Linked DNA regions of Homo sapiens: all the other regions are reported to be linked to region 2. The links are microRNA targets in miRTarBase. Many come from high-throughput screens and were not tested one by one. Region 2 holds a microRNA gene; each other region holds the end of a gene's coding sequence.

The links. The annotated mature microRNA hsa-miR-365b-3p reads UAAUGCCCCUAAAAAUCCUUAU and lies in region 2 at 1,718-1,739, opposite strand. An mRNA with a match to its seed (bases 2 to 7 or 8) in the 3' UTR can be bound and repressed. Matches are read on the target gene's strand: a 7mer-m8 pairs with bases 2 to 8, a 7mer-A1 pairs with bases 2 to 7 and ends in A, and an 8mer does both.
Region 1: miRTarBase lists KPNA1 as a target of hsa-miR-365b-3p. Seed matches in the 3' UTR shown: 7mer-A1 at 72-78.
Region 3: the mRNA of UBL3 is a reported target of hsa-miR-365b-3p. Seed matches in the 3' UTR shown: 7mer-A1 at 3,319-3,325.

Annotation. Positions count from the first base shown.
Region 1 is chr3:122,423,748-122,427,747 of GRCh38, forward strand. KPNA1 (karyopherin subunit alpha 1) reads right to left here. Exons shown (of 14, transcript NM_002264.4): 13 at 3,791-3,969; 14 at 1-3,425. The coding sequence ends at 3,238. The region is part of intron 1 of WDR5B-DT (WDR5B divergent transcript); the gene reads left to right. Among named protein-coding and RNA genes, the nearest start is that of WDR5B-DT, 9.5 kb to the left of the region's middle.
Region 2 is chr16:14,306,927-14,311,078 of GRCh38, reverse strand. It overlaps MIR365A (microRNA 365a), which reads right to left and starts at 1,794; the gene lies at 1,708-1,794. All of the region lies in intron 1 of MIR193BHG (MIR193b-365a host gene), which reads right to left. RefSeq lists enhancers at 62-201, 302-421, 213-507, 2,394-2,443, 3,239-3,923 and 1 more and a silencer at 333-627.
Region 3 is chr13:29,763,558-29,767,557 of GRCh38, forward strand. UBL3 (ubiquitin like 3) reads right to left here. Exons shown (of 5, transcript NM_007106.4): 5 at 814-3,750. The coding sequence ends at 3,698. Among named protein-coding and RNA genes, the nearest start is that of UBL3, 85 kb to the right of the region's middle.

The sequences.
Region 1 (4,000 bases), not on the chromosome of region 2:
AAAATCGGCAGCAATCTGGAATAATTCAGATTTTTTATGAGATTAATTGCCAATCTTTTTATCTGTGACGATAATGCCAAAAATGACTCAGAGCCAATAACCTTCATCTGTCATATGGAAGAAACAATCCTAGGGCAATAGTTTTTTCAAAAGCGGAACTGACAAAGATAAGCGTTTAAAAGGGTCTTGATCAATTAGTTACAGGAACATGAAAGAAAGTGTTCCACAGAGAACTGTGTCTCCTAAAATCTCTTTCTTCTATCATCTACCTTACCCAAAATTTCTCAATCCAACCACATCTACCTGCTGGTCCATCAGATACCAGATGCCTTTACATCCAAAATTCTCTTAATGCTTTTTTTCCCCCACCAAAGTTCTCATTACAAATAATATAGATTGGAAGTTTGGAGGATGGAGGGGAATAAAAAGGAAAAGTAAAACAAAGTCACTTTCCCCAATCCATATATAAAACTACAAAAGAGTTTTCCTGTATTGAAATTAACATGCTTTTGTAATGAGCAACGCCTTAGTGGTAGGGTATTCAGTGAATTTAAACTAAGTTAACAGAATCTGAGAGGCAAAGAACTAAAAACAGGATATACAGTTACCCCTTAAAATGTCATTTCTGTTACCAAAAAGCCTGCTTCAGTACCAAGTTCCAACATATCTGAGTTATGCTACTTCACTTTTAGCCAATTCCAACTTTGATACTTTAAGAAAAAATCATTTTATTGTTAAAAAAGAAAAAAAAACTTAGATCTTATAGTTCATGAACTTCTAGGACAAGATAAATTCCTCTGTTTTAGACACAAAATAGATCACGTCAGTTAAATAGACTTTGTTTTAATTCACTCACTGAAACATCTCCAACTACTAGCAAAAATTCCGAATGTCTGAATGCACACTACTCTTCCTAATGTGGGGAGACAACTGTGTGCTTTGTATCTTTCCCACTCAAATTGGCTTATAAAATGAAATTATTTTAACTATCCAATGGAAGGTACATAATTTAAAACATCCTATAGAAATGACATGTTACTAGTAATTTACAATTTTAAAAAACAGCCACAAAAAAGTCAAAGCTAAAAACAAGATTTTTACTATGAATCAGTGCTTCTATTATCCTTCTGAAAGAAGTTATATTTTAATGTGATGTAAAGGCAACATTGAAATTTCTTCTTTAAATTAACCACCTAATTTATCCCTAAAATTACAAAGAATCAGTCTTTTACAGGTCAAGTGCAGTAAACTAAAATGTTCTCTCAGCACAAAGCAGCACTAGAAAAAGTAACAGTTATAGATGGGAGTTGACTAGTTTTGCAGTGGCTGCGCCATCAATAACAAACAGACATCAGACGGTATCCATCCCAGAGCACAGACACTACTACAGACTAGATGCGAAGAATGCGTCACACTCTTGGCTGATAAATGTCCTTTGTCTTTGACTCTTTCTAGTTTGAATGAAGTGGATTTTTTAAAAGTTTAAATCAGGTCACATAAGTTGGCTGCTTAAATAACATCATGATGAGGTATGAAAAGCTCTGAATATCCCTTACATTCAGCAGGATTTACCAGAGATGTATAATAGCTTGTCAGGGGCAACTTCCAAATAGTTTTTACACTTTGGGGTTATAATGAATTCTAGAAGAGGACAAGTCTAAAAAGGTTTAAAAGGGTATGCTCTGAAACAGAGGTGAGCAACCTTTTCCTTCAGAATTCACTTTGAACAGCACATCAACAAAAAAATCTTCTCTGGTAGTGTATCCCAACATTGAGTCAAGATGGCCAACTAGCACCGAGAAGTCGTATTGAACTCATTTGCAGTTGTCTTGGCAATTAAGCGTATTTTTTCATTCCAGTCCAAGCACAAATGTGGATCACTGAACACAGTACTGGAAGCGCCATTTGCAGGTACAGATTGCAGTCATCATTAAATGAGCCAGAAGGCAGATACTGTTTTTATTTTGTGTGGGGGGAGGGGGAAGCGGCACAGTACTAGCAGGAGATGAAATAAAATGATTAGGAAACAATGAGGTTATAAGATCACTGTTCTTATTTGGGTTAAGCAGGTCATGTTGAGAAGATGGTTATTTCTTTCAGATAAGGATGCTACATTAAAGGAATCGTGTGCAGCATGAAAAGATTAGAATCGAGCTGCACCTAAGAAAAAAATCCCAAAGTTACTTTCAAAAGTATGTGTTATCTGCCAGTCACAGAGGGGAAAAGCACCTAGGGTGAACTCCAATTTTTTAATGAGGACCTTGATCAGGACCACAAAGCCTGAAACATTTATTTTAATGCAGAAACACAGCCCCTAGTTACACTGATTGCATTTGGGAAAATTGGAGGGTTTTTTCGTCCTTAGTTTTTTTTATTAAATTACAGGATATGGTTTTCGATTACTAAGTATTCGAAATCCTCATACCAGCAACAGAAATGAACCACTTCCAAATTCTAAGACACAAAAGACCAAAGAGAAGCAAAAGCGATACAAATTAATATGTGCCCCTCTCCTTTCTGCTCTAAGGGAATCTACAAACCAGTATCACATTTAGGAGTCAAAGTGTTAATTCTTCAGCATTCCTGACAACTAGAAAGCACATTCACTGAAGGCTGAAGGTGAGGGAGTGGATGGTTTAACTTTAATATCTGAAGAATGGCGCCAATAGAGGAAAGAAAACCATCCAATCTCAGTAAGGATTAATGCAAATCTGGCTAGAAAAAGCCACCAGGTAATCCAAGGGTTCACTGTGGAAGAACTCATGAAAAGTACTCTGAAGTATACACAACAGGTCTAAACATCTCCCTTGTCGTAAGTAGTTGTGTAAAATTCAAGATAAAGATTTAGTCTCATCTTTTAATGTCAGTTTTTTCCCCCATGTTAAAGGGAATGAGGAGGAGTCCTCTTTTATTCCCCCACAAGAAAAAGGGAGCCACATTAATATGTGTATATTCCCATAACTCTAATGTAAGTGCGGATCTCCAAAGCCTAGGGATTTTTCCGTAAAAGAGAGTGGGCCGTTCTGGTTACCCTTTTATTAGAAGGGTATTCCACCACAGAGAGCCGGAGGTTTTCCAGATGTGTGTAAGAGAGCAGGTGCGCAAGGCAAGCAAATGAGCGCAAACAGTATTATGGAAAACATTTGAGAAGTTAGCTCCATGAGGACTGTGGGCTCCACAAGAGGACTCGACTGGGTAGCCTGGTCTGACACAGGTACGTGAAAGCAGAGTATTGCTTCAAAGCTGGAAACCTTCCATAGGAGCCTCACACTGTTGGAAGATGTACTGCTGCTGGTTAAGGTCAACCTGGGGTGCAATGCTGCTGTCTTCATCTTCGGTCCCGAAGTAATGCTCAATAAGATCAAAGGCCTTTTGGTAGATCTCCTGGTTTTCATGACTCTGTAAGAACTCAATTTTATCCAGACCTAAAATGAAGAATAAAGGAAAATCTTTATTGAAAACTTCAATAAATATTGGAAATTCCATAACTATATATTCCTAAACTATATTTTGTCATATATCTCTGTTCTTGATGTAAAGAAAGATTATTTGTATCTCATAAGTATTTTATAATAGCACAGAAATGACTGCTGGGATTACATCTGAAAGCTAGTATTATAAACTGACATCTTAAATACATATGCAAGTAATATCCAGTCTGCAGAAGCAGCAATTTCCTAACAGTCCTCTTTTCATCCAGTGCCTAGCAGTAGTAGTATTGTTTTTACTGAACTCTATCTATGACCCAATTCATTCTTGGCCATAAACTTCTTCAACCAAAGCATCTTACCATAAGCTTCTTCAATCAAAGCACAGTAAGGGTTAATGCCAGTGCCATTCCTTTTGGCTTCCTGTTCTCCAAGCCTCAGGATATTTTCCAAGCCATTTAGGGCAACCTGTACAATCTTAGAGTCCATGACCGTGAGGAGATCACAGAGCGGCTTGATACAACCCAGTTCTACTAGGTACCTAAATACAAAGAATAATGTAGTCAAACAAA
Region 2 (4,152 bases):
CCCCGACACTGTGCAGGTGGAAAGATTTAAGGGGCTCCTGAGAGCCCAGCCCCCATCCTGGCAGGCTGCAGGGGGTGGGTGGGGGGTGCGTTCTGGCAGCAGGGCCGGCAGCTGTCTGCAGGCCTCTCAGTGCCTGCTCTAGCTGGCCAGCGGGGGCCCGCTGCCACCCCCCACCCCATGATGCAGCAGAAAGTGAAACCGCAGTTGGCCCCTGCCGGCTGGGACTGATCACCCATGGTTTCCCTGCAAAACCAGAGTCCCAGGGGGCTGGTGGGCAGCTGGCTCCCAGGTCCGGCACAGTGAGGCCTGTCAGGCAAGTGCCCCTAGAGGCCAAGGGAGGTGCCCTGGCCAGAAAGGAGGGTGCTGAGTCATCGTGACCCTAAAATGAGAGAGAAATCTGAGCTATGGATCAATGCAGGAGTGGGGGGGTGAGGGGTCCCAGTGGTGTCGGTGAGCAGGGAAGGGTGGTTTCCCGACCCCCAAAAGGAAGATGTGTGACACCCAGTTTTGTCATGCTGGAGCCCTCTACAGATCTGAACTGGCAACTCCCCCATCTCCCCCCACCCCTCCCCACACCGACTACAGGAGTGCGGAAAATCCCTGAGATAAACAAGAATTCTCTAAAAGTGGACCTCTGAAACTTTACACACGACTTTCTGATTTCTGTCCCATCCTCAGGGCAGCTGTAGTTGCTTAATATTTTTCTTCCAAAACACCCACTCTTTTTTGTTTAACTGACATCAATTGATGGACAAAAAAAGGGCCCCTGTCTCCCGACCCTAAATGGAAAACCAACCAATTGCCTGAAGTACAAATCAGCGGTGCAAAGAATACCTACTAGAATAATTTTCACCTTTAGCCGGCGCCGCTTAAAATCAGAGATGTGCAAATCAGACTTGGGAGTCTGAGTTACAGGTTTCATGCCTGAGGAGCTGGTGGCTCAGAGAGACTGACTCACTTGTCCCGGGTGACACAGCAAGAGAGGCGCAGAGCTCGGGCTGGAATGCAGGCCTGGCTGATCCCAGAAACCCAGGCTCAGTGCTGGGCTGCCGTCTCCCCACCCATGAATTCCTCTGTGTGTATTCATATTATTACCTTCCATGTTTAATGCATGGACTCTCCAATTTTCAAAGCACCTTCAGAGCTTATACAACGTTAGAGCTTTTTATATATAACATTGGCTACATCCAAGAACCCTTTGAAGCCAGAGCAGGGGGTGCTGCCCCTCCCTTGGTGTATGGGGAAACTGAGGCAGCGAGCGGGGAAAGTGTTCTGTCTCAGGGAGCTAGCAGGAAAGCCAGGACTGCCCCAGGGCCCCCTGCCAAGGCGATGATCCCGGAGGCCCTGGCTGCAAGGACCAGGCCTCGTCAAACAGGTAACACTTGTTTCTTTCCGCTTTCCCTACCTCCCCCTACAACCCCCCAGAGCAAATGCTGACGCTGATGGGGAGCCACAGCTGTACTCCTTCCCAGGCCGGATCTCAGCGTCTGCCCCTGGAGGGCAAAAGCACGTTTAGCAACCAGTGTCTGCGCATGGCGTCTTTCAATTTTTCACAGTGATAACCGGTTTTGAGCACAAGAAGGCATCTACCAGGGACCCAGAAGGCGCTACAGCGGAAGAGTTTGGGGAACAGCTTTCTCTCTTCTTTGAGTTGCTGGAGGAACTCCGAGCTGATGTCTTTCTGGCCCAGGGACCCCCGAGGAATACTGCAAGAGCAATAAGGATTTTTAGGGGCATTATGATAGTGGAATGGAAACACATCTGCCCCCAAAAGTCCCTCATTTTCCCTGCGGTAACGAACCAGCTGGCAGGAAGTGGTAGCTCTCAGAGCACCAAGAGCCAAAACTAAAAAGGAAAAAATGTACAAAGTTAGAGCAAACTTTAAACAAGTGAGCGCTTTCATGGTGTACGGCGGCTCCGTGCAGACTCACGAAAGGGACCTCATCTTCTCAATAATTGGCTAAATAGGTCTCAGTGCAGCAGCTTCCACACAGACGTGCTCAGAAAACCACAGATCTGGAATCCCAGAGCAGGTTCCCAAAATGGATACAAGGATTATTCCCTAAAGCCAGGCGCATCATAGGAGACGTGACGTTTCCCCCAAACTTCAGATGACTGTTCCAGACCCTCATTAATGATCTAAGTTATCCTTCAACACCTCCTCCTCTGGAATGGGAGAAACTTAGTCCCCTTGGAAATGCTGATGAAAATACCTGGTTTCCACAACACGGACAGAAGGACTAAGGCTTGGGTAGGGGAGCTGAGTGGTTATCGCTGGTGGTGCAAAAGGGGCAAACCGGCTGGCGTGGGGGCTCACGCCTGTAATCCCTGCACTTTGGGAGGCCAAAGTGGGAGGACTGCTTGAGGCCAGGAGTTTGAGAACAGCCTGGGCAACACAGTGAGACCCCCCCCAAGTCTCTGCAAAAAATAGCCAGGTGTGGTGGTGTGTGCTTGTAGTCCCAGCTACTCAGGAGGATGAGGCTTGAGCCTAGGAAGTTCAGGCTGCAGTGAGCTGTGCTCACCACTGCACTCCAGCCTGGGCAACAGAGTAAGACACTGTCTCAAAAAAAAGGGGACGGGTTTTACTGCTAAGGTCCCAGGTGCCATCTCTTGGTTCAGCCACTAAGATCTGAGGACTAAGGAGTTCAGGGTGTCTTCCCCAAGGCATATAACCTTTGAGGCCCTGCAGGTGGGTGCCCCCTGTGCCAGCCAGCACCCTCAGAGCCAGGAAAGGGTTAACCCCTCCACATGGCTGACACCAGAGGAGGAGCTTACTACGCAGCCTGGGATATCACACTGGGCCATCTCAGAGAGGAGAGGCCTCTGTGAGTTCTGTGAATGGAAGTGGATTCACTGCCTTCAGATTGAGAACGGGGTGAAAAGGCATCCCCACACAGAACCGACGCCCCAGTCGCTAGCTGGCTCCTTGGCACCCGTCGCATGGCCCCGAAGCTCTGGCAGGGACTCTGGGCACCTGTACCAGTGAGCACCCGGCCATCTCGGCCAGGTCTGTGAGGGAGCGATTCTACCCTTGCCATGTGACAGCCGGCAACTAGGGCCCAGATCTCTTCTTTCAAGTAGCACCTAAAATATTCTCCGGGTGAACCTAGGGCTAAATACGGCATGGCCTACAGGTGCCGGGTCTGGACCTTTTAACGCCATTCTAAGATACGATCGAGAACCCACGAGGCCTTTGGTAGCCTGGAGTCCAGTTACTGGGGCCAAATGGGAGTCCCACGGGTTTGGCTGACTCAGGGCTGGGTGCAACTTCCTGGAGCAGGCACATGTTGGTGCCAGGGCAGAGAGGCTGCAGACAGTTTTCTTGTGTGTTTGAACCCAGAATGCCAGCCCAGTTCTCACTCTGGGCCGACCCCCAAGGTGGCTTAGTTGGTGGCCCCTTTTTCTGTCCACCTGGCCCACTTCTTTCCACTTCCAGCCTGCAGCCCGGCCCTTCCTGGCCTAGGTTTTCCTCCCAGCCTGATCAAAGCAAAAGGCTCAGCTCCCAGGTGGGAGGCCTCACGGAGCTGGAGAAGAGACCAGCAAACACATGCACGGTAACTCAGATGTGTTATGTGTTGTCTTGCTGGCTGGGAGCTACGCCTCCTAGGCCCACCCCAAGTCGAAGGATCGCAGCCCTGGTGCTCGAGAGCAAGGGCTTGGGGCTGGGCTGCAAAAGCTCAGCTTTGCCTCTGAATCTTCTAGAACCACGTTTGCACTCACACAGGACAGATTTGCTCTGAGCCTGTGGGATAGCCTCATCTGTTCCCCTTTGAGCATTTGGAAAGCAAAGTGGGGTTCTGCCCTCGCCAGAGCCCACAGGGTCACCAGGCTATTAAACCCTGCAGAGTCTCTGGGGAGGCTGACTTTGAGAGCCAAATACCCCATCTTCTGGCTGAACTGCTGCAGGCTTCGTCTCGGGAGGAAAGACCCCCAGGCACCTGTCTGGACTTGTCTGGGCACCAGTAGTGGCTCTGAGGCCACATCTGGGCCTCGGCTGGCAGAGGTCTGGGCTGTCTTGGGCACAAATGCCAATGCCAACAGGCCCAGCACTGATCTCACACGATTCCAGCAAGAGAGCCTAGATTTTTGCACATCTCTGAGAAAACTGTCATACCACACCGCACAGCTAACCTTAGGCGCAACCAGCCACTA
Region 3 (4,000 bases), not on the chromosome of region 2:
ACCACTTCCAGAGCCATTTTAGAAAATGTGTTTACCCAACTCCTTTTTTATTGGTTGACTCACGTGGAAGAGATGGGCATTTCCTTTCCCCAAATGGGAATTTACTATGCCTACTCCATATTTCTTGAAAGCTGTCATTTTGAAAAAGAGGAATATGAAAAATATTAAAAGACAAACATCTGACATCACTGTCGAAGACTATAAAATAATGTAGTAAGTGAAATTGGTTTTCACATTTCAGTACTGCTTTAAACTCTGATATTTAAGAACTAAGTGTTTCTCATTTAGTTCTATCCATGATCTCTTTCAGAAGTCAACCACCTCCTGTGTAAAAGCCTCATAGAAGCCACTGCCTTCTGAAGGAAACACACCAACTGGCAGGGGGTCAGGGTAAGCCAGGAGTCACACCCAACTACCACTGCTCACACCCAAGAACCCCACCCTACCCTGGCCACAAAAACTGTGCCTAGACTCCAGCACAGCCTGCAGCTGTGTTTCAATTATAGCTGTGTTTGTAATTATAGGTCATGTGCCTTCTCCCCCACCCCAATCACTCCACCCCAATCACTCCATTTGGCTAACAAGTGACCATATTATAACACAAAAATGGAAAACAAACTGGAATGCTCGAAAAAGTTACAAATAAAAACGGTATGAAGGCATATTAAATTTTGGCTGATACTTCCCTTTGATTTTGCTAAACTATAGCAAAGGCTGGCTCAATGTTGATTTTTACTGAAGAGTATCATTAACTGAAGAAAGAAAAAAAGACATAAACAGTAGTGAAATAAAGAATAGGCAAATACACCAGAATTATGAATAGAAGCCATTTTAAAGAAGAGAAATATTCTACAACAGATGAAGAAAGTTTTAATTTCTTTTCACATTAAACATTGTTTACCACAATCAGCTAACAGAAATTACTGTAACATTGGTCACGATGACTTCATAAAACTAAAGATAAATGTTATGAGGAAACTTCATTTAACGTGAATGGTAATGTTAGATACTGTATTTTTCCATGGTAAAATACAACTTATCTTGAAGAGAAAGCAAATAGTTCAGATCAGGGAGACATGCTGAGGTTTTAATAAAGAAAAGCTTGGCCTTGTCCAGAACACTTAACAAAGTTCAGGACAATTTAGGTAAAAGAGATGAGTGAGACACCAGCGTTAGGCAGGGACATAGGCTCATCATTCAGGCTTTATGTACATTACTGGATCTATGCAGCTCTCACCTTTAGATAAGTGAGCTATATTTTTGGCAGAGGGATCTTCAAAAGTAGCCTTGGATATGAGGAATCGTATTTTAACCACCAGGCAGTCCAAGGAATTATTTTTAAAGGGACAGCTGAGTATTTCACGTATATACTATTAAGGCATCTAAATTTTTGGTGTTTTCAGTATATAATTTTACTGCTACTTTTTATTCTTTTTTTTCATATTGTACAACTATGATATTAGGTATTAAGCGACGTAATTCTTTCTCTACTAGTGAACCAGTTTATTTCACTTAGCAAACTCTAAATTGAGGGAAATATATAATCTGAGAACACACAGAAAAATATATTGAAAAACCAATAGAGAATTATTTTTAACCATCATAAAAACTCAATCTTAATTAACTGATAGTCTTTAACTTAAAAAAAGAGTAATCAGAATGAAAATAGGTATTAAAAATAATTACCAGTAGTTTGTTTTACAAAATAGAGCCATAAATTGTTTAATTGCCCAATTAAGCAACTACCAGATTCTTTAGTCAACACTAACAGAATTCACATTTCAGCTAGTCAACAAAGCATATAAATATTTAACATCTCTTGAAGATAACATTTTAGTGATAACGGAGACTACATAATTCTATCCATTGTTGTGACTGTCCACAAATTAACCAGGTTAAATATCAAAGATACATTGGGAATACTCCCCAAAACAACAACAGAATATTAATTAAATGAATTTTAAAAGCTTAAGAAATGAAAGTAGAAAACATGAATGAGACGGTGCTTAAACAATTATTGACCTAATCAAGACCTTTAAAATTACCACCAAAATGCACTATCATTTTTTTTTTATTTAGTTTACAGGAAGAATCTGTAAGTACAGGTTGCAGAAAGAAAACGTTTAGTGCTATTTACATTCATTTTAAAACTCTGCTCTATACAAATTTAATTCTGATCAGTATGAACAATATTTTCGTAGATCTACTGCATATAAAGCCTTTTCATCAAAGCATTAACAATGAATAAAATAACATGATTACATTTAAACAACGCTGACCATTTGAAACCATTTACATTTAATGTTTGTAAGGGCTGTTGACACTTAGTACAGAATGTAATGTCAGCCTGCAACTTCATTTTTATAAAGGCTAAACTTATTTATATGGAATATTGTTCTGTATACTACGCGCCAATCTATATTTTAAGTCCTGTAGTTAGGTATTTTATAAGTCTTTTATTAAATATATTCTACACATATTTGTAATTTCATCCAGGAAGAATTTCTTCCCAGTGAAAAAATATAAAAATCTTTCATATTTTTACAGGTTTAGATGAAAGTAGCTCATGCTTTAGTGCTGTGCAAATTGTTTTTAGCATATCAATCTTTAAATTATTGGTATGAAATAAAAGAAAAAGTGGCATTCTTGTGTATGCCATAAAAATCAGCTTTTGACTTTAATACAATTGCAAGCACTAATATCAAACGCAAACTATATAAAGAAACAAAATTAGTACTATGGAGTTTTTTTTTAATTTTAAGAATTCATCTGAACTCTAAGGAGTAAGCATGACACTGGATGTGGTTACAAATTAATGATAATTATGGAAAATTTCAATTTGCTGATATTCAAATACATAAAATTGATCAATGAGGTTTTCTAATATTTCTGCACAATAATGAAAGCCGATGAGTGACTGAAACTACCCTCCCACATTAAGGCTAGGAGACGCACTCTCACCCCTTCTTGTGCTGTCTAAACAAACACTCAGTTACTGTAGGACTCAAGAGTGCATGTCTTAAAGGAAAAAAAATTAGTTTCATCAGCCCTCTACTGAGTGCTTTAAACAGGCACATTTTGTTTTTTCATTTGTTGCAGTGAAAATAGTCACACTCAGTTTAGTATTCTGTGCCAGTGCAGCCACCACGGCTGACTTTGGTAGAATTCACCCAACATTTTAGTTTCTTTTCCATTTTTTCCTCTCAAGTTGGCCCAGTAATTAACTTCATTAATTGCTGAGTGTCTTCCAGTGTGGAATTGTATATATAAGTATTTCTAGATACCACACACTGTTATAAATTCTGCTGATGAGGAAAATAATGCCAATCTTTTTAATGCAAATTGTATTTGGAACACTTGATTTATTAGTTCTGATGATGAAAATTTTGTGGCAGCAAAATGGTTTCTGCTACGAAAGATAACTTGTTAACTTTTCCCCTGGAGATTGACTGCATTCAAAAACCAATATGTGTTAAAACAGCTCAACAAAAAATACAAGAAATAAAAAATCAGAGTGAAAAATGTTCTTGGTTCTTTTTACTTTCATGAGAAAAGATGACAGTGTTCATGTGGTAATTCAGTTCCATGTGTTTACAGGCAGACTGTTCTGAACGGTTTCTGAAGCAATGTCGGGTCTTTTCTGTCCCAGCAGCATGAAAGACAAAGACTATATCACATCACACTAGGCAGACAGTGTTTACAGGATTACACAACAATTACTCTCTCCAGTCTTCTCACGATTCCTCTGACCTAGGGAAAACGAAGAAGAGCCTCGTTTATAAAAATTCTAGAACTGGAGGGGAAAATGGGCTAGGCAATCAAGTGTAGGAAGTAGTAGTTTTGAGTTTTTAAAAATGTTTGCATTTTTCAAAATTAAGAAGCTGTAATAAATGTTCTTTTAATTTTAGCATGTTTCAAAAATGTCTGGTTATTTGCTTGACAATCTCTATTCATAAACTATGCAAACTTCCCTTCCCTCAGCATATCCAAGAAAAACCTA